4 separate regions of the Homo sapiens genome follow, and all the other regions are reported to be linked to region 3. Evidence: microRNA targets listed by miRTarBase, many of them from high-throughput screens and not tested one by one. Region 3 holds a microRNA gene; each other region holds the end of a gene's coding sequence.

Region 1 (4,000 bases), not on the chromosome of region 3:
GAAACCTTCGAGCCAGAAGACAAGACAGTGAAGCAGGAACAGATTAACACTGAGCCTCTAGAAGACACAGTCCTGTCCCCGACCAAAAAGAGAAAGAGGCAAAAGGGGACGGAAGGGATGGAGCCAGAGGAGGGGGTGACAGTTGAGTCTCAGCCACAGGTGAAGGTGGAGCCACTGGAGGAAGCCATCCCTCTGCCCCCTACGAAGAAGAGGAAAAAAGAAAAGGGACAGATGGCAATGATGGAGCCAGGGACGGAGGCGATGGAGCCAGTGGAGCCGGAGATGAAGCCTCTGGAGTCCCCAGGGGGGACCATGGCGCCTCAACAGCCAGAAGGAGCGAAGCCTCAGGCCCAGGCAGCTCTGGCAGCTCCCAAAAAGAAGACGAAGAAAGAAAAACAGCAAGATGCCACAGTGGAGCCAGAGACAGAGGTGGTGGGGCCTGAGCTGCCGGATGACCTTGAGCCTCAGGCAGCTCCCACATCCACCAAGAAGAAGAAGAAGAAGAAAGAGAGAGGTCACACAGTGACTGAGCCAATTCAGCCACTAGAGCCTGAACTGCCAGGGGAGGGACAGCCTGAAGCCAGGGCAACTCCGGGATCCACCAAGAAGAGGAAGAAGCAGAGTCAGGAAAGCCGGATGCCAGAGACAGTGCCCCAAGAGGAGATGCCAGGGCCGCCACTGAATTCAGAGTCTGGGGAGGAGGCTCCCACAGGCCGGGACAAGAAGCGGAAGCAGCAGCAGCAGCAGCCTGTGTAGTCTGCCCCCGGGAAACTGAGGAACTAAAGAAAGCTGAAGGTGCCCACCTGGGCCACCAGAAGGTGACACCCCCAGAATCCCTCCCCAGAGACTGCACCAGCGCAGCCAGCAGGAGCCTGGCCTGGGAGGACGATTTATTATTACACTGGGGGTTTCCTTGGCAGCTGGGGTCATCAGGGTACTTTCAAGAAGGGCTCGTGCAGGACATCAAACAGCCTCCGGGCCTGGATGGGAGGGAGAAAAAAATGAGGAACCAGTCATTAAAGGAGCTGTTTCCTGGGTAAATCTAGAGTGGGGTTTTGGTTCTTTATTTTCCCCTATACCCTCAAGCATTTATCCATTGAGTTACAAACAATCCAGTTACAATCTTTTTAAGTTATTATTATTATTATTATTTTTTTTTTTTTTGAGATGGAGTCTCGCTCTGTCGCCCAGGTTGGAGTGCAGTGGCGCAATCTCGGCTCACTGCAAGCTCCGCCTCCCGGGTTCACGCCATTCTCCTGCCTCAGCCTCCTGAGTAGCTGGGACTACAGGCCCCTGCCCAGCTAATTTTTTGTATTTTTTTTTAGTAGAGATGGGGTTTCACCACGTTAGCCAGGATGGTCTCGATCTCCTGACCTCCTGATGCGCCTGCCTCAGCCTCCCAGTGCTGGGATTATAGGTGTGAGCCACTGCGCCTGGCTAAGTTATTATTATTTTTTTGAGACAGTCTCCTGGTGTCACCCAGGCTGGAGTGCAGTGGTGTGATCTTGGCTCACTGCAACCTCCGCCTCCTGGGTTCCAACGATTCTCCTGCCTCAGCCTCCCGAGTAGCTGGGCCTAAAGGTGCCCACCACTATACCCGGCTAATTTTTGTATTTTTAGTAGAGACAGGGGTTTCACCATATTGGCCAGGCTGGTCTCGAACTCCTGACCTCGTGATCCACCTGCCTTGACCTCCCAAAGTGCTAGGATAACAGGTGTGAGCCACCGCACCCTGCCAAGTTATTTTAAAATGTACCATTATTATTGACTATAGTCACCTGGTTGTGTTATCAAATAGTATGTCTTATTCATTCTTTCTTTGTGTGTGTGTGTGTGTGTGTGTGTGTGTGTGGTACCCATTAACCTTCCCCATCTCCCTGCCAGCCCCTAACTACCCTCCCCAGCCTCCAGGAACTATCCATCCACTCTTATCTCCATGAGTTCAATTGTTTTGATTTTTAGATACACAAATAAATAAGAACATGCAATGTTTGTCTTTCTGTGCCTGGCTTATTTCACTTAACATAATAATCCCCAGTTCATTATGTTGTAATTGACAGGATCTCATGTTTTTTTTGTTTTGTTTTGTTTTGTTTTGAAAAGGGTCTCGCTCTGTCGCCCAGGCTGGAGTGCAGTGGCACAATCTTGGCTCACTGCAACCTCCGCCTCCCGGATTCAAGCGATTCTCCTGCCTCAGCCTCCCAAGTAGTTGTGATTACAGGCACGCGCCACCACACCCAGCTCATTTTTTCATTTTTAGTAGAGACAAGGTTTCACCACGTTGGCCAGGCTGGTCTTGAACTTCTGGCCTCAAGTGATCTGCCCGCCTCGGCCTCCCAAAGTGCTGGGATTAGAGGTGTGAGCCACCGCGCCCAGCCAGGATCTCATTCTTTTTTATGGCTGAAGAGTATCCATTGTGTGTAAGTACCACATTTTCTTTGCCTGGTCATCTGCTGATGGACACAGGTTGGTTCTAAGTTTTGGCAATGTGAACTGTGCTGCAACAAACAGGAGTGCAGATACCTGTTCCATACACTGATTTCCTTTTTTTGGGGATATACCCAGCAGTGGGATTGCTGGATCATGTGGAACCTCAACTTTTCAGTTTTTAGAGGAGCCTCCAAACTGTTTTCCATAGTGGTTGTACTGATTTACATTCCCATCAAAAGTATATGAGGGTTCCCTTTTCTTCACATCCTCGCCACCATTTGTTATTGCCTGTCCACCATTTGTTATTGCCTGTCCTTTGGATAAAAGCCATTTTAAGGCCGGGCACCATGGCTCACACCTGTAATCCCGGCACTTTGGGAGACCGAGGTGGGTGGATCACCAGAGGTCAGGAGTTCAAGACCAGCCTGACCAACCTAGGGAAACCCCATCTCTACTAAAAATACAAAAACTAGCTGGGCATGGTAGCGAGTGCCTGTAATCCCATCTACTCAGGAGGCTGAGGCAGGAGAATCGCTTGGATCCAGGAGACGGAGGTTGCAGTGAGCTGAGATCATGCCATTGCACTCCAGCCTGGGCAACAGAGTGAGACTCCATCTCAAAAAATAATAATAAGCCATTTTAATAGAGCTGAGATGGTATCTCATTATAGTTTATTTTTGGTTTTTGGTTTTCTTTTTTGAGATGGAGTCTCACTCTGTCACCCAGGCTGGAGTGCAGTGGTATGATCTCGGCTCACTGCAAGCTCTGCCTCCCAGGTTCATGCCATTCTCCTGCCTCAGCCTCCCGAGTAGCTGGGACTACAGGTGCCCACCACCACACCCAGCTAATTTTTTTTTGTATTTTTAGTAGAGACGGGGTTTCACCATGTTAGCCATGATGGTCTCAATCTCCTGACCTCACGATCCACCCGCCTCGGCCTCCCAAAGTGTTGGGATTACAGGCGTGAGCCACCATGCCCGGCCTATTTTTGGTTTTTTTTGAGATGGAGTTTTGCTTCTGTTGTCCAGGCTGGAGGGCAGTGGTGTGATTTCAGCTCACTGCAACCTCCGTCTCCCGGGTTCAAGAGATTCTCCTGCCTCAGCCACTCAAGTAGCTGGGATTACAAGCATGCGCCACCACACCCAACTAATTTTTATATTTTTAGTAGAGATGGGGTTTCGCCATGTTGGCCAGGCTGATCTTGAACTCCTGGCCTCAAGTGATCTGCCCGCCTCGGCCTCCCAAAGTGCTGGGATTACAGGCATGAGCCACTGCACCCAGCCTCACTGTAGTTTTGATTTGCATTTTTCTGATGATCAATGATGCTGAGCACCTTTTCATATGCCTGCTTGCCATTTGTATGTCTTTTGAGAAATGTTAATTCAAATATTTTGCCCACTTTTTGATTGGATTATTATATTTTATCCTATAGAGTTGTTAGAACTCTTATCTTCTGATTATTGATTCCTTGTCAGATGGTTAGTTTGCAGATATTTTCTCCCATCCTGTGTGTTGTCTCTTCACTTTGTGGAATGTTTGCTGTGCAGAAGCCTTTTATTCTTTTTTTTTT
Region 2 (6,262 bases), not on the chromosome of region 3:
CTGATTTGATAATTTGTGTCTTTTTATTTCCTGATAATTCTACCTAGAGGTTTATCAATTTTATTGATCTTTTTTAAGAACCAGCTTTTGTTTCTATTGATTTTCTCTATTATTTATCTGCTCTTATATCATTGTTTCTGCTCTTTATTACTTCTTTCTTTCTGCTTATTTTGGATTTAGTTTGCTCATTTTTTTCTGTTTTCTTAAGGTAGAAGCTTAGATCATTGCCTTGAGATGTTTCTTCTTTTCTAATGAAATAATTTATTGCCTTAATTCTCTCTAAGCGCTACCCATGCATTTTGATATGCTGTGTTTTTGTTTTCATCCAGTTCAAAGCACTTTCTAATTTATTCAGTCATTTCTTCTTTTATTCATGGGTTATTCAGAAGTGTATCACTTAGTATTCCAATATTTGGAGATTCTCTAGGTATCTTTCTATTGTTAACTTATAATTTAATTCTACTGTAGGACATACTTTGCCTACCCTTCCATACTTTGAATACTTTTCAATTTATTGAAACTTGTTTTGTGGCCTACAATATGTTCTACTTGGTAAATTTTCCATGTGCACTTGAAAAGAATATACAGTATTCTGCTGTTCCTAGGTAAAGTGTTCTATATCAATTGTCATGTCCTCTATATCCCTACTGATTCTGTTTACTTGTTCTACCAGCTGAAATCCTGAACTACAAATGTGGAGTTAGTTCTTCTTTCAATTGCATCAGTTTTTGCTTCATGTACTTTGAAGCTCTGGCATAAACATTTAAGATTGTTAGGTATTCTTGATGTCTTGACCCCTTTATCATTATGAATTGTCTCTCTTTACCTCTGTAAATTCTTTGCTCTGAAATCTTCTTGTCTATTATTAACATAGCTACTCCAGCTTTCTTCAGATTAATGTCTGCATGGCATATCTATTTCTATCCTTTTATACTTTTAATTTATCTGAGTCTTAGTATTTAAGGTGGGCTCATGTAGACAGCTCATAGTTGCATCTTCTTTTCTAGCCAATCTGATAATCTCTGCCTTTTAACTGAAATTTAGACCTTCTGTAATTAATGCAAATATCAATATCATATGGTTTAAATGTATTATCTTTGTTCCTTCTTTCCTCTTTTCCTGTCTTCTTTAGAATTAAATGAGTAATATTTATTACATTTACTCTCCACCATACAATAATTAGAGCTACTGTATTAGCTCTAACTCTGTTTGTTAGGTTTTAGAGATAACTCAAGTTTTACTTCATCAGTCTATTGTCAAATACCATTATGTCATTTCACAAATAGTCTAAGAATTACAAAAGTAAACTTCTATTTTCCTCCTCCTTTGTTTTTTTGCTAGTATTATACATTATACTTTTACATAAAATATCATTGCCATAGTTTGCCTTAAACGGTTATCTATTAGTGCTTAAAAAATTTTAAAGCCTATATATTTATCCACATATTTTCCATTTCTTGTGTTCTTTCTTTCTAAAGATCCAAATTTCCATCTAGTACCATTTTCTTTCTGCCTGAAAAACTTCCTTGAACATTTTTTATAGTGTAGATCTGCTAGTGATTAATTCTCTCAGCATTTGTTTGGCTGAAAAGTCTTTACTTCACCTTCATTTTTGAAAGATACTTTAAAGATACTGCTCCATTGCCTTTTTGCCTTCATATCTTCTGATGAAAAGTGTGCTCTCATTCTTATGTTTCTTTCTCTGAATGCATGTGTCATTTACTATCAAGTTTTAAGATTTTTCTCTTCAATTTAATTAGGACATGTCATTGTTTTGTTTTCATGTTGCTTCTCCTTAGGGTTGGTTAAGATACTTGGATCTGTGAGTTTATAGTTTTCATCAAATTGGGGGAAAATTTGACCATTATTTCTTCAAATATTTTTCTATCCCCCTCCATTCTTCTGAGAAGCCACTTACATATATATTAGACTGCTTGATAATGAAACACAAAACTTATACGCTTTTTTCTTTGTACTTAATGTTGGATAATTTATATAGCTATATATTCAAGTTCATTAATATTTTCTTCTCCAGTATCTAATCTCTTAATCCTATTCAGTGTATATTCTTACTTCAGATATTGTATTTTTCATCTCTAAAAGTTCTATTTGGGTCATTTTTATACCTTCCATTTATTTCTTCATTATGTTTTTATCTACTACTTGAACGATATTTATGGTAGCTGATCTACTGTATTTGTCCATTTTCACACTGCTATAAAGAACTACCTGAGACTGTGTAATTTAGGAAGAAAGGAGGTTTAAATGATGCAGTTCCACAGGCTTAACAGGAAGCATGGCTAGGAGGCCTCAGGAAACTTACAATGGCAGAAGGCAAAGGGAAGCAAGCACATCTTACCATGGTGGAGCAGGAGACACAGAGGGAAAAGAAGGAAGTGCTACACGCTTTTAAACAACCAGATCTCATGAGAACTCATTCACTATTATGAGAACACCAAGGGGTGTTCTCCATATCCATGGAGAATACTCCATATTCATATCCATATAGGTGTTCACCATAATCCAGTCACCTCCTATCAGGTCCCTCCCCCAACACTGGGGGTTACAATTCAACATGAGATTTGCGTTGGGACGCAGAGCCAAACCATATCATTTACTAATGCCATCATCTGTCATTCTCAGTCTATTACCATTGACTAAAGATTCTCTTGACTGTGGATTGCCTTTTCCTTTTTTTTTTCATGCCTGGTAACTTTTTATTAGATGCTAATCATTGTGAATGTTACACTTTTGGTGCTGGATTTTATTGTAGTTTTTATTTTTATTTTGATGGGTTTTCTCCCCTTGGATGCACTCAAGTTACTTGAAATCAGTTTGATCCTTTCAAATGTTGCTCTTAAACTCTGTTAGGGCAAGTCCAGAGTAGTCTTCAGTCTATTCCCATCTCCCTAACCTAACCCTAACCCTACTTTGCCAATATTTTGCTGAAGACTCTACTCAATGATCCATGTACTATATTAAAAGATCCACTATTGTTGAAACACATATTCTACCCAGCCTTGTATGAGCTCTGAGGAATTTTTCTTTGTTTTTCTTTTTTTTTGAGACAAAGTCTCACTCTGTTGCCTAGGCTGGAGCACAGTGATGCAATCTCAGCTCACTGCAACCTCTGCCTCCTGGGTTCAAGCTATTTTCCTGCCTCAGCCTCCCAAGTAGCTGGAATTACAGGCACCTGCCCATCATACCCGACTAATTTTTGTATTTTTAGTAGAGTCGGGGTTTCACCATGTTGGCCAGGCTGGCTTCGAATGCCTGACCTCAGATAATCCATCCACTTCGGCCTCCCAAAGTGCCAGGATTACAGGCATGAGCCACCAAGCCCAGCCCTCTGAGGAATTTTTCATCACTCCTTTCTCCTTCCTGTCATTTTTTCTCCAGCCTCAGGCAATTTCCTGCCTCGATTTTGTTTTCTTCCTTTAAGGAATGTTCTATTTTTATTTGGCAGATAAAATGAGGTTACTTAGAGATCATCTTGAGTCTCTCAAGGCTTATTTTTAAGCTTTCTTAAAATTGGTATACATTAGCCTTTAGTCTAGCTCCAGTTTGGATCTCTTATGAAAGTACAACCTTTCTGAGTCTCTACTCAATGCCCCACATGTTCAAGATCTTTCCACTTTAACTGGTTGGCATTCAAACTTCTCCCAGCTCAGTGTGAGCTCTGAGAGTTTTTCCTCTTATAACTCCCTGGCAGTTTTTCTTTTCACCTAATGCAACACATATGCATCTACGTCTATTTAATTATAAGTTAATAAACTTTTCATTTTAAAAGGCTTATATGTATATTTTCAGAAGCAGCAAGGTAGACAAAAAACACTGGTGAAAATTGTATCTGATCCTAAAGTCAGTCTTTTGGAGAAGACAATTTCATTAGATGGGTGCTGACAGCCATCGAGAGAAAAGGAAAGCAGACTGAGTTTCTGGGGACTACTGCAAGAAGAAAAAGAGAACATAGAGAGCTGGCCTCATCCTCAAAAGTGATCCCACATCTAACCAAATTAAAAAATCCACATGAGGTTTCTCAATACCTACTGTAAACAATTTATCAAGATACCTGGTTAGCACTTCGTGTACAAAGTGATAACCAGACGTCATTTTTCTTGGAAAAATCGGGGTTGGAACCACAGCTTTGACTTCATTATCAATATATTTAACCAACAATCTGGGCTCCTCTATGGAAGTGGCTTAAATGCCTTGCAGATTAACCATGGACTAAGAACTTTCTTTGATCTTGAATACTGTTCCAAAACACACAACCCCAGGGCTCCATTTCTCACCCAATATAATCATTCCTGAGCAGAGCATTATCAAATAGTATCAAGCCAGGAAACTGGCTTAGGGTACTAAGGTGAAAGGATTTAGCCAAGTAGCAACCCAAATATGAACAAGGAAATGAGCTTAAGACACATTAAGCATTTAGAATAAGCCCCACCTGACTGATGACCATGGTGGATTAAGCTTCATCTTTAATTATTGATATTAATGATCTACTGTGAGCAAGATGATCTCTAAGGTACTTTCTAATTGTGAAATATTATTCTGTCTTATGTATCAGACATAACTGATAGCCTATCACTACATGTGCTTTACTGACTACATTTCTGTCGGTCTTACTAAAAGTAAAGAGCTCAACTGTTGTCATCATCTAAAGGTGCCACCACTTTTATTTGTTTACCAGATCACCAGATGATACTGGTCCATTACCCTTGACCTAGTCAGACCTTGACAAAAGACTTAATGGTGCTATTTAGGATGCATTTCCTTGCTGCTTTGTGCAGGTGGCTTTCTCGTTGTTGCATAAACAGTGACGGGAACATCAGTTATTGTCAGGCAATGACTTCCAGGGCACCTCCGGAGTTGCCTGAATAAAAAAGCAGATGACATGTAGTTAGATACTAAAAAGAGGAAATATTTTTTTTCAGAGCACCAAAGTTTGATTGTATATTTAACTGTTTTAAATCACTTTGAAATCTCTGAATGTCATACAATGAGTACAACATGGTGATGCTGACGAGGCACCCATTTTAGATGGATATAACAAAGAAATTGTGGCCTCTGACGTACATATTTAATCACAGGAAATTCATATATTCAAAGATAATCCTCCGGATGTTGATTTTGAAAGGTATGCAATGATTGCTAAATGGCAAAACAAAAGTGCATAGTTACAAACATAAGTGACAATACCGTGGCAATTCATGTGCATTTGCACCCTAAATCACCTTAGTTGAGTGATTTCAAAACAAGAATGTTTGTGGTAAAATACAAAACTGAACATAGTATTCCACATACTGTTCAAATGTTGATAGAATCTCAGATTTGAAATGGCCCTTAAATGACACCTAGTTCAAAAATACATCGAATATATGAATTTCCTTTCCAACATTCCCACCAAATAGTCATTCAGCCTTTAGCATTTCTAAAGATCGGGAGCTCACTACTTCCCAAAGCAGCCCATTTTATCCTTGACTAACTCCGATTTTTAAATACCTACACCTGTTAAACTTAAATCTGTGTTCCCAAAATTTCCAAGCCATGAGAATCTAACAATGTAGTATTTAAGGTTTTGCTATGGTAAACATCAGAGAAATGGAACTAATCATTCTGCAAAAACACTTTGTCTCACAGAATCTTCAGATTCTATATCACTCTTTCTGCCAAAGGTCGCAGCAAAGCCAAAGTGATACTAATCAAAGCCAAAGTGACATTAACTCTGAGGTCTAAGTCTTTTTCATATTTTTAGCCTTATGCCTAGCACAGTGCCCTGTGCATACTAGCACTGAAGTTTTGTTTGTTTAATTGAATGTTATCTAATCGTGAAGCTATCAACAAAACAATCTATTAGGTTGGTGCAAAGGTAATTGTGTTTTTGTTGTTGTTGTTAATAGCTAAAAATGTACCAGAAAGACAGAGAATGAATTGCTCTATCATCAAGACTTACAGAAATACAAAATACAGACTCTACACTAAGGAAAACTGGGCTCTGTTAATACGCTAACTTAGAAACAACAATGTTTTTGAATTGCTGAGAGTTTTTTCTTGCTAATAATGAATATCAGCTGAAGGTTGTATTGATGATAGCCAATACATATCTCCTCACTTGTGAGGACAGAAGACTTTACCTGGTTGGTGACATCTCCTTCCCATTACAGGCAGCACTGGAGCTCAGCCCAGGTTCCAGCTCAATTGAAGAATCTCCTCCTTCCACTGGAAACCTCCTTGGCTGGGTTCCAAATTGAAAAGG
Region 3 (4,000 bases):
GGTCCACACGTGCTCGGCCGCAGGAGGCTTCAGCACCAGCGATTACGACGTTGGCTGGGAGAGTCCTCACAATGGCTCGGGGACGTGGGCCTATTCAGCGCCGGATCTGCTGGGGTGAGCAGAGCGAGGGCCCCGGGCGTCTACGCCAAGGACAAGGGAGTAGTTCTCCAGGAGTGCCGCGGCCTCCTGACCAGCCTGGCTCCGGGGTGCCGGAAGGGCTGGGGTGCGGCACCCACGCCACCCCTCTCCGGCAGGGCATGGTCCTGGGGCTCCTGTGCCGTGTATGACAGCGGGGGCTACGTGCAGGAGCTGGGCCTGAGCCTGGAGGAGAGCCGCGACCGGCTGCGCTTCCTGCAGCTGCACAACTGGCTGGACAACAGGTGGGAGCTCCCTCCCCTGCCCTCTCCGGGGTGGCCGCAGTCACCAGCCAGGAGCCCACCCTCACTCCTCCGGCCCCCGCTGGCCTAGGCGGCTTCCACAGCCCCTCAGCCACGCCTGCACTGCGCGGTCCCCGCAGCTCCCGCCCTGCCACCCGCTCCTACTGACCCGCACCCTCTGCGCAGGAGCCGCGCTGTGTTCCTGGAGCTCACGCGCTACAGCCCGGCCGTGGGGCTGCACGCCGCCGTCACGCTGCGCCTCGAGTTCCCGGCGGCCGGCCGCGCCCTGGCCGCCCTCAGCGTCCGCCCCTTTGCGCTGCGCCGCCTCAGCGCGGGCCTCTCGCTGCCTCTGCTCACCTCGGTACGCCCGTCCCCGGCCAGACCCCGCGCCTCCCACCGGCAGCGTCCCGCCCCCTCGCGGGGCCCCGCCCCGGCAGCGTCTCACCCCTCGCAGCGCCCCGCCCCCTCGCAGCGTCCCGCCCCCTCGCAGGGCCCCGCCCCGGCAGCGTCCCGCCCCCTCGTAGGGCCCCGCCCCGGCAGCGTCCCGCCCCCTCGCAGGGCCCCGCCCCGGCAGCGTCCCTCCCGCCCTCCTGACCGCGCCCCCCACAGGTGTGCCTGCTGCTGTTCGCCGTGCACTTCGCCGTGGCCGAGGCCCGTACTTGGCACAGGGAAGGGCGCTGGCGCGTGCTGCGGCTCGGAGCCTGGGCGCGGTGGCTGCTGGTGGCGCTGACGGCGGCCACGGCACTGGTACGCCTCGCCCAGCTGGGTGCCGCTGACCGCCAGTGGACCCGTTTCGTGCGCGGCCGCCCGCGCCGCTTCACTAGCTTCGACCAGGTGGCGCAGCTGAGCTCCGCAGCCCGTGGCCTGGCGGCCTCGCTGCTCTTCCTGCTTTTGGTCAAGGTGAGGGCTGGGCCGGTGGGCGCGGGGCTGGGCGCACACCCCAGGGCTGCAAGCAGACAGATTTCTCGTCCGCAGGCTGCCCAGCAGCTACGCTTCGTGCGCCAGTGGTCCGTCTTTGGCAAGACATTATGCCGAGCTCTGCCAGAGCTCCTGGGGGTCACCTTGGGCCTGGTGGTGCTCGGGGTAGCCTACGCCCAGCTGGCCATCCTGGTAGGTGACTGCGCGGCCGGGGAGGGCGTCTTAGCTCAGCTCAGCTCAGCTGTACGCCCTCACTGGTGTCGCCTTCCCCGCAGCTCGTGTCTTCCTGTGTGGACTCCCTCTGGAGCGTGGCCCAGGCCCTGTTGGTGCTGTGCCCTGGGACTGGGCTCTCTACCCTGTGTCCTGCCGAGTCCTGGCACCTGTCACCCCTGCTGTGTGTGGGGCTCTGGGCACTGCGGCTGTGGGGCGCCCTACGGCTGGGGGCTGTTATTCTCCGCTGGCGCTACCACGCCTTGCGTGGAGAGCTGTACCGGCCGGCCTGGGAGCCCCAGGACTACGAGATGGTGGAGTTGTTCCTGCGCAGGCTGCGCCTCTGGATGGGCCTCAGCAAGGTCAAGGAGGTGGGTACGGCCCAGTGGGGGGGAGAGGGACACGCCCTGGGCTCTGCCCAGGGTGCAGCCGGACTGACTGAGCCCCTGTGCCGCCCCCAGTTCCGCCACAAAGTCCGCTTTGAAGGGATGGAGCCGCTGCCCTCTCGCTCCTCCAGGGGCTCCAAGGTATCCCCGGATGTGCCCCCACCCAGCGCTGGCTCCGATGCCTCGCACCCCTCCACCTCCTCCAGCCAGCTGGATGGGCTGAGCGTGAGCCTGGGCCGGCTGGGGACAAGGTGTGAGCCTGAGCCCTCCCGCCTCCAAGCCGTGTTCGAGGCCCTGCTCACCCAGTTTGACCGACTCAACCAGGCCACAGAGGACGTCTACCAGCTGGAGCAGCAGCTGCACAGCCTGCAAGGCCGCAGGAGCAGCCGGGCGCCCGCCGGATCTTCCCGTGGCCCATCCCCGGGCCTGCGGCCAGCACTGCCCAGCCGCCTTGCCCGGGCCAGTCGGGGTGTGGACCTGGCCACTGGCCCCAGCAGGACACCCCTTCGGGCCAAGAACAAGGTCCACCCCAGCAGCACTTAGTCCTCCTTCCTGGCGGGGGTGGGCCGTGGAGTCGGAGTGGACACCGCTCAGTATTACTTTCTGCCGCTGTCAAGGCCGAGGGCCAGGCAGAATGGCTGCACGTAGGTTCCCCAGAGAGCAGGCAGGGGCATCTGTCTGTCTGTGGGCTTCAGCACTTTAAAGAGGCTGTGTGGCCAACCAGGACCCAGGGTCCCCTCCCCAGCTCCCTTGGGAAGGACACAGCAGTATTGGACGGTTTCTAGCCTCTGAGATGCTAATTTATTTCCCCGAGTCCTCAGGTACAGCGGGCTGTGCCCGGCCCCACCCCCTGGGCAGATGTCCCCCACTGCTAAGGCTGCTGGCTTCAGGGAGGGTTAGCCTGCACCGCCGCCACCCTGCCCCTAAGTTATTACCTCTCCAGTTCCTACCGTACTCCCTGCACCGTCTCACTGTGTGTCTCGTGTCAGTAATTTATATGGTGTTAAAATGTGTATATTTTTGTATGTCACTATTTTCACTAGGGCTGAGGGGCCTGCGCCCAGAGCTGGCCTCCCCCAACACCTGCTGCGCTTGGTAGGTGTGGTGGCGTTATGGCAGCCCGGCTGCTGCTTGGATGCGAGCTTGGCCTTGGGCCGGTGCTGGGGGCACAGCTGTCTGCCAGGCACTCTCATCACCCCAGAGGCCTTGTCATCCTCCCTTGCCCCAGGCCAGGTAGCAAGAGAGCAGCGCCCAGGCCTGCTGGCATCAGGTCTGGGCAAGTAGCAGGACTAGGCATGTCAGAGGACCCCAGGGTGGTTAGAGGAAAAGACTCCTCCTGGGGGCTGGCTCCCAGGGTGGAGGAAGGTGACTGTGTGTGTGTGTGTGTGCGCGCGCGCACGCGCGAGTGTGCTGTATGGCCCAGGCAGCCTCAAGGCCCTCGGAGCTGGCTGTGCCTGCTTCTGTGTACCACTTCTGTGGGCATGGCCGCTTCTAGAGCCTCGACACCCCCCCAACCCCCGCACCAAGCAGACAAAGTCAATAAAAGAGCTGTCTGACTGCAATCTGTGCCTCTATGTCTGTGCACTGGGGTCAGGACTTTATTTATTTCACTGACAGGCAATACCGTCCAAGGCCAGTGCAGGAGGGAGGGCCCCGGCCTCACACAAACTCGGTGAAGTCCTCCACCGAGGAGATGAGGCGCTTCCGCTGGCCCACCTCATAGCCAGGTGTGGGCTCGGCTGGAGTCTGTGCAGGGGCTTTGCTATGGGACGGAGGGTGCACCAGAGGTAGGCTGGGGTTGGAGTAGGCGGCTTCCTCGCAGATCTGAAGGCAGAGGCGGCTTGGGCAGTAAGTCTGGGAGGCGTGGCAACCGCTCTGCCCACACACCCGCCCCACAGCTTGGGCAGCCAGCACACCCCGCTGAGGGAGCCCCATATTCCCTACCCGCTGGCGGAGCCGCTTGATGTGGCGGAGCCGGGCAATCCACTTGGAGGGGTAGATATCGGTGGGGTTGGAGCGGCTATGATGCACCTGTGAGGCCATCTGGGGACGTAGGCAGGGGGTGAGCTCACTATCAGGTGGCACCTGGGCCTGTCCCACCAGCTCACG
Region 4 (6,262 bases), not on the chromosome of region 3:
TCTCTACAAAAAGTTAGTTGGGCATGGTGATGCATGCCTATAGTCTCAACTACTTGGGGAGGCTGAGGTGGGAGAATCATTTGAGCCTAGGCGTTCAAGGCTGCAGTGAGCTATGATTGTGCCACTGCACTCCAGCCTGGGTGACAGAGCAACACTCCCTCTCAAAACAAAAAAGAGAAAAGAAAGAGGCCCTTGGACTCCCGTCCTGGCTCTGCCCCTAACCAGCTTCACAAACACAAGAACACGCCACTCCTGAACCTGGTCTGTGAATCAAGAAACAGTTGGGATCAGACCATGTGGTCTCTAAATCCCCTTGCTCCTTATTAAGCTCTAAAAATGAGAAGTCTTAAAATTTTAAAGCTTAATTAGCCAGATCCCATATCTTTTAAAAAAAAAGGAAAGAAAACCAGGATTTCCTCCCAGCCTCTCTGCCTGTTAGACTCTGTTGGCCTCCCTGGCCACTAGAGACCTTCTGGAGGTCTTCTGTCCTGGTGCCATTTCAGGGTTTCAGGCTGCATCAGTGCTGGCAGCAGCAAACAGTAAACTCACTGTTGGGCATTACTCCAAATTCTGTTGTTTCCCCCATCTGCCTGCCATGATTTACTTCTGAGTCCACAGTTAGCTGCTGTGTGCATCCCATTCTGGCTTTGTAGTGTCAGTGAGGAAGACGGGGTAGAGTGTGCCTGCTCCATTTTTCCCAGAACCTCCGAATTCCACCCTGAAAGTGGAGTCTAGTCTGATCAAATGTGTGGGACCTGCTTATGTGGCCCTCTTCCTGTTCATCACACCTTAACCCTGAAGGGCAATGAGCAAACACAATGATTTGCCAAACAGCAGAAGGGCTCATGCCCATTTCGTGGGAGTCCCCAGCTGGACCCTGTACAAAAAACTGCTTTAGAGACTGCTTTAAGGTGTGGAAGGACTTCTGTGCAAGGTTGCAGCTCTGTTAGGAGAAGCATATTAGCACTGACCTAAATGGCCATCCAAGTATGGTTAATTGCATTGTCGTATTTATAATTCCTTGATACAGAATGATCTCTAGGTTAAGTTAGGCACAAGAGGAAGACATGTACAACTCTGTGTGGTGGGCCACCTTGTGTGTTTTTTGAAGTGTGTGAATAAATATGTGTATTACACATATTTACATGCACAGAATCTTTGAGAGGGTAAAATGATGAGAAACTGTACCTTTAAGAAGGGAAACTAGGGGCAGGGAGACCTGTTTCTCTGCATCCCCTTGATTTTCTGTGCATTTAGCACCACATGTAAGTGTTGCCATTGAAAATATCAGTTTATTTAAAAATAATACTGGTGGCCTTCAGCAGAATCCCAGGGGCCTGATTTAGCCTGGCGGCCCTGCTTAAAGTCCAGGTGTTGGCAGAGGGGGTGGGCCATAACTTACCTGCCCTGTATACTGTGGGAACACAGGTGGAGTTTCCCGAAGCCCGGATTTATGAGGAGACCCTGAACATTTTGCTGTATGAGGCCCAGGATGGCCGGGGACCTGACAATGCGCTCCTGGAGGCCACAGGCGGGGCGGCGGGGCGCTCCCACCACCTGGACGAGGACGAGGAGCGGGAGCGGATCGAGCGCGTGCGGAGGATCCACATCAAGCGCCCTGATGACCGGGCCCACCTCCACCAGTGAGCAGGCAAGAGACCGAGCCGCCCTCCTCTCACCGCCCCCACTCCCTGCCGTGCTACACCCAGATCCTGTGCAGGCTGCCGGGCCCCTTCTGCTTCCCTTGGAGCCTGGAGATACTTTTGTAACAAGCCAGATGATTATTTTGGTATTGCTTGACAAGGCAAATTGATTGTCTTGACCCAGGCGTATGACCCCTGTCGTTGAACAAGCTGTGTCTAAGATCTCTACTTTTCATGAGAATCTGAGACTCTTTGGAGCCAGGCTTTCTCGGTTCTCAGAGGAAAAGTATGAATGAGTGTGAAGTGTATGTGAGAACTTTTGTTTGCAATATTTATTTTTGTGGGTGTCGACTTCCTATGTGGGCTTTTTGGGTGACACTCCCTTAAGGGTTCAGTTTGACAATTCTGAGAGTTGTCCTGCAGTTGGAGGCCACCAGAGGTATCTGAGCTCCCTGCTTCCTATTTCATAATCCTCCAGCCCCAGCAGGTCCACTCCTGGTTCCTGTGTGTTTGGCCCGGGCACAATCCCCACTGCTTTGCTAGACGTGCTTTCTGCCATGTGGCTTTGGGCCTAGAGCTTGTTGATAATTGCAGCTTGTGGCAGTGGAAATATGGCTGAATGAGCGTCTAAATCGTTGAGACCAGTGCAACTTTGGGTGCAAGGCTTTGTTTAGGGATCAAGCCTTTTGCCACCTTGGGCTGGTCTTTGGCCTGGTGCTCACTGGGACCCCATATGTCTGCGTAGGAGCAGAACTTTCCATGGCAGTAAGTGTCCAGCTCTGTTTCTGGTTCTTTCCCCAACTCCAGCCCCGTCCAGTTGTTCTCCTGATTGACCCGACTCCACTCCAGGAAGGCCATCTGACCCTGTGACAGGCATAGCTCATAAACTACCCCTCCCTGGGATCCCGCTCCTCTTCAGCCTCCTTCCCCATGAAGCTGGGCTAACTTTCTAAGTCATTTTGCTTAGAAATTCAGTGTGGCCCATACCCTTTGTCCTCCCAGCCTGGCATCCAGGCAGGGACACCCTCACACCACCAGCCCCAGGGAGCTTCCCTGCTATAAACACAGACCCCCTTGTCTTTGCCTCTGATTTTTACACAGTGTAGAGTGGCCAGCAGTGAACAGGTTGAGGATGTGCGGGTAGATAGATAACTTTGGGTCTGGTTTGTGTCTGTGTTCATGTTTGTTTAAGGGATATGTGTGACTGTGGGTGGGGACGTGTGCTTGTGGGGCACAGGTGGCGGCCCCTGCTGGAGCCCGGCTGGGCGCAGCGCCTATGTAGGACGGGTGTTCTCAGTGACCTACCTCCCAGGCTCCTCTGCACCTGCAAAGGAACAGGAGTGAGTCGTGACTGACAGGGGTGGTTGAGACTAGACTAGGTAGAGTAGTTACCAGGAGATGTGAATGTGCGTCAGGTGATGGATGGGTTTGTCAAGGGAATCGTTACCGTTTTATACCAAAGGTATTAACATGGGCAGCCTTTGACACATGTATTCCAAAAACGAGTTTATATTTTCAAACGGTTTTTACAGCTTAGACTTTGTACTTACTGCCCTGCCTGTGACAGTTGTATGCCTTCATTTTGTATCCAACAGCAAAGTCTACAATAAAACTTTAAAACAATCATGACTGAATGTCAAAATCGTGTATTGGGCAGATGCTTTTTAAACTGTCGTGTGAGAAACTTTTATATTAGGCCATTTGGATTTTATTAAGTGCTAAGGAAAGAGGGCTTACAAAATGTTTCGTAAATATTTTATACTGTTTAAGTGTTAAACACCAACCCTGTCTTTCTTTTGGGTTGAGCTTTTTTAGAAAGTCGAAGTGAATGTTGGCCAGGAAAATGGAAAAGCCATTGTATAAATTTTTTTTTGAGGCGGAGTCTTGCTCTATTGGCCAGGCTGGAGTGTAGTGGCACCATCTCCACTTACCACAACTTGTGCCTCCTGGGTTCAAGCGATTCTGCTGCCTCAGCCTCCCGAGTAGCTGGGATTGCAGGTACCCATCAGCCCATGCCCAGCTAATTTTGTATTTTTAGTAGAGATGGGGTTTCACCATGTTGGCCAGGCTGGTCTTGAACTCCTGACCCTGTGATCCGACCACCTTGGCCTCCCAAAGTGCTGGGATTACAGGTGTGAGTCACCACACCTGGCTGCATAGTGTTTTAAATGTTTGTGTGAAGAATGAGTTTGTGGAACAATTTGATTTGCTGTGGCCTCTATGCCTAATGAGCTAGTGTTTCTGGCAGCTCTCTCTACCCAACTTTGCACTTGTAGTTTTGAGTCTTTGTCTCTCTGGAATATGAACAGGTTTATAAAACATTCCATGGTGAACAATTCTGTCGGCTGCATTATAGCCATGAGTGAATAGACAGCATTGGCTGGTCCAAGCTCTGTTATTGAGTATACAAGGAACTGATTTTTCTTATGTTAGCACTAAGGGCAAAAACCAATATTTATAATGTAAGCACTATCCAGGTAAAACACTGGCCCAAGATTTGGTAAAGAGATTTCATTGCAATGTAATAACTACAGTTTTTTACAAATTGGAACAGCTTTGGTGTGTCGTAATCAAGGGTTTTTTTTGTTTGTTTGTTTCAAATAAGCCATCTGATTGTGGTGACTGGGGCCCATGTCCAAGACAATTCCTGGCATATTCTGTCACCCTCCCGTGGGGCGATCACTGTGTGGGGACCCCATTCCCCAGTTAAAGTGTGTCTCTGTACCTTACAACAGCGATTCAGGACCCAAGTGTGAACAACACTCAGCCCGCCCTCTGGAGCGTGTGCTGTCTTTAGGGCCCTACCCAAAGTCACTGTAACAGTTAAGTGTGTCATTAACCTTTCTGTCTCTTTGCGCCATAAAAAAATGCTCAAAGTTTTAGATGTAGCCACTGTATGTTGTACAAACGTTGGCGACATGTAAAATAAAAGTCATAAAATGCTTCTGTTTTCTGGCTCTTTTCAGGCATGCCCGGCATAACCAGGCCCCTAAAATCGGTTTACAACAAAGGCAGGGCCCCCACGTTCTGCCTCAGCCCCTTAAAGTCGCTCCAGGTGGAAGGGAAAAGACAGTCATGTTTCTGTAGTGTTTGTTTGAATTCAAACACCAAAAGGAAGTCTTGGGGTCAAAGGCTGCCTGGCTCATGAAAAAGTGAATCAGCTGGTGTTACCACTGATTTGCTATTATGGGGCAGAGGGCTTCAGTTCACCAAACCCAATCCCTTGACACATGTGAGTTCCATTTATTTAAAGCAAAATTCAAATTTCACAGCTTTAGGAAATTTCCTTTACTTAGTCTCAGACCATGCACAGTAAGTCATCGATAGGTTCTTGGAAGCTGAGACTTGAAGCAAAACCATGAGGCTAATGGATGTAAACAAGAGTTAAATTCCTACAGCATGTTGCTGGGCACAAAAACATCACCCAATTTCTAAATAAAGACCAAAGCACTTCTCATATTAAACTGTGAAATACATGAGCTACACGTATATTTAATTAAATCAAAAATAAGACCATATTACCTAAGTTTTGGTGAATCGGTAAGTGATGGTGGTCACAGTGGTGGCCGCATACATCAGTAAATAAACGCTTGCAAAGGTGAGATTATACGGAGCCCCTCCCCAGTCACAAGCGTGGCAGGCTCGCTACACGCTTTTGCGCTGTGGCATTTATTGTCCATTTGTGTGCTCATATGCTTTATATACATTTTTATTTTACAATAAAATTTGTATTCATTCGTTCTCCAACCTGCACGTTCAGGGTTGCAGATGGCCAGAGCCCAATCCCAGCAGCTCAGGGCAGAAGGCGGGACCCACCCTGGACAGGATGTCCTCCTCTCACGGGGCTCACGCACCCACACTCACTCAGACTGGGACCGCATAGACACGCCAGTGCACCTGACACACACACCTTGGGGACGTGGGAGGAAACCAGAGCACCCAGAAGAAACCCAGAGACATGGGGAGAACATACAGACTCCACCCAGACAGTGGCCCTGCCCAGGAATCAGATGTCTTATCAACATATAACGAAATGTTATTTGAGAACTTGCTGTACACAGTATTTCATCATGTCTCAGGGCAGCTTGACAGAGGTAGAGAATCTTGCCCACCCTCTAATGACACGTTGGACTGCGCACTGAACATAGATCCTGTCGAGGGTGTTTAGAATTGCGCCTTCGGGTGACCTGGGGTCTGCTTCCAGAAGGTGACATTTTAAATAAGGTGCCATGGGGCAGCTGAGGAGCTGGGATTAGGCTTTGGCCTAACGCCCCTCAGTTTCTTCAGATGTGATCTGTTAGTGCTGCGGGCCTGGTACCTTGAAGAGGTAGCTAACTGGATCCAATCCCCACTTCCCCTGTAGTTTCCTCAGTTGGAGCAAAAATGGCGATGGTAGAGGTCAGACGTCATCCTCTATCAGGACTTCCTCCGGACTGACACCTGGGAGAGAGTCACACTTCGGTTTACAGCCCTTCCCCGCTCCCTTTGCGCAAAAGGAAACAGTTATCACCTCAACTGTCACCATTAGCAAGGTGGGTGTGGAGGGCCTGTGAGAAGCCAGTGCCACCTCCCATGAGACAAGCCAGACTTAGAAACTGGCTCATCGAGGCCTGTCAGCC

Evidence for each region. The annotated mature microRNA hsa-miR-1225-5p reads GUGGGUACGGCCCAGUGGGGGG and lies in region 3 at 1,877-1,898, shown strand. An mRNA with a match to its seed (bases 2 to 7 or 8) in the 3' UTR can be bound and repressed. Matches are read on the target gene's strand: a 7mer-m8 pairs with bases 2 to 8, a 7mer-A1 pairs with bases 2 to 7 and ends in A, and an 8mer does both.
Region 1: miRTarBase lists POLR1G as a target of hsa-miR-1225-5p. Seed matches in the 3' UTR shown: 7mer-m8 at 1,853-1,859.
Region 2: the mRNA of FAM229B is a reported target of hsa-miR-1225-5p. The part of its 3' UTR that is shown has no 7-base or 8-base seed match.
Region 4: miRTarBase lists KCTD10 as a target of hsa-miR-1225-5p. Seed matches in the 3' UTR shown: 7mer-m8 at 3,642-3,648, 7mer-A1 at 3,899-3,905 and 7mer-A1 at 4,446-4,452.

The regions. Positions count from the first base shown.
Region 1 is chr19:45,408,746-45,412,745 of GRCh38, forward strand. POLR1G (RNA polymerase I subunit G) reads left to right here. Exons shown (of 3, transcript NM_012099.3): 3 at 1-1,992. The coding sequence ends at 756. ERCC1 (ERCC excision repair 1, endonuclease non-catalytic subunit) reads right to left here. Exons shown (of 10, transcript NM_001983.4): 10 at 1-980. The coding sequence ends at 930. Among named protein-coding and RNA genes, the nearest start is that of POLR1G, 4.1 kb to the left of the region's middle.
Region 2 is chr6:112,099,287-112,105,548 of GRCh38, reverse strand. It overlaps FAM229B (family with sequence similarity 229 member B), which reads right to left. Exons shown (of 4, transcript NM_001033564.3): 3 at 6,141-6,262; 4 at 2,759-4,879. The coding sequence ends at 4,762. Among named protein-coding and RNA genes, the nearest start is that of FAM229B, 15 kb to the right of the region's middle. RefSeq lists an enhancer at 4,517-5,306.
Region 3 is chr16:2,088,161-2,092,160 of GRCh38, reverse strand. It overlaps MIR1225 (microRNA 1225), which reads left to right and starts at 1,877; the gene lies at 1,877-1,966. It overlaps TSC2 (TSC complex subunit 2), which reads right to left. Exons shown (of 42, transcript NM_000548.5): 41 at 3,836-3,934; 42 at 2,670-3,715. The coding sequence ends at 3,551. PKD1 (polycystin 1, transient receptor potential channel interacting) reads left to right here. Exons shown (of 46, transcript NM_001009944.3): 40 at 1-114; 41 at 255-380; 42 at 564-738; 43 at 987-1,277; 44 at 1,353-1,487; 45 at 1,571-1,876; 46 at 1,967-3,453. The coding sequence ends at 2,434. PKD1-AS1 (PKD1 antisense RNA 1) reads right to left here and starts at 725. Exons shown (of 3, transcript NR_135175.1): 1 at 547-725.
Region 4 is chr12:109,446,980-109,453,241 of GRCh38, reverse strand. KCTD10 (potassium channel tetramerization domain containing 10) reads left to right here. Exons shown (of 7, transcript NM_031954.5): 7 at 1,429-4,587. The coding sequence ends at 1,647. MYO1H (myosin IH) reads right to left here. Exons shown (of 32, transcript NM_001101421.4): 32 at 4,863-6,083. The coding sequence ends at 6,060. Among named protein-coding and RNA genes, the nearest start is that of KCTD10, 27 kb to the left of the region's middle.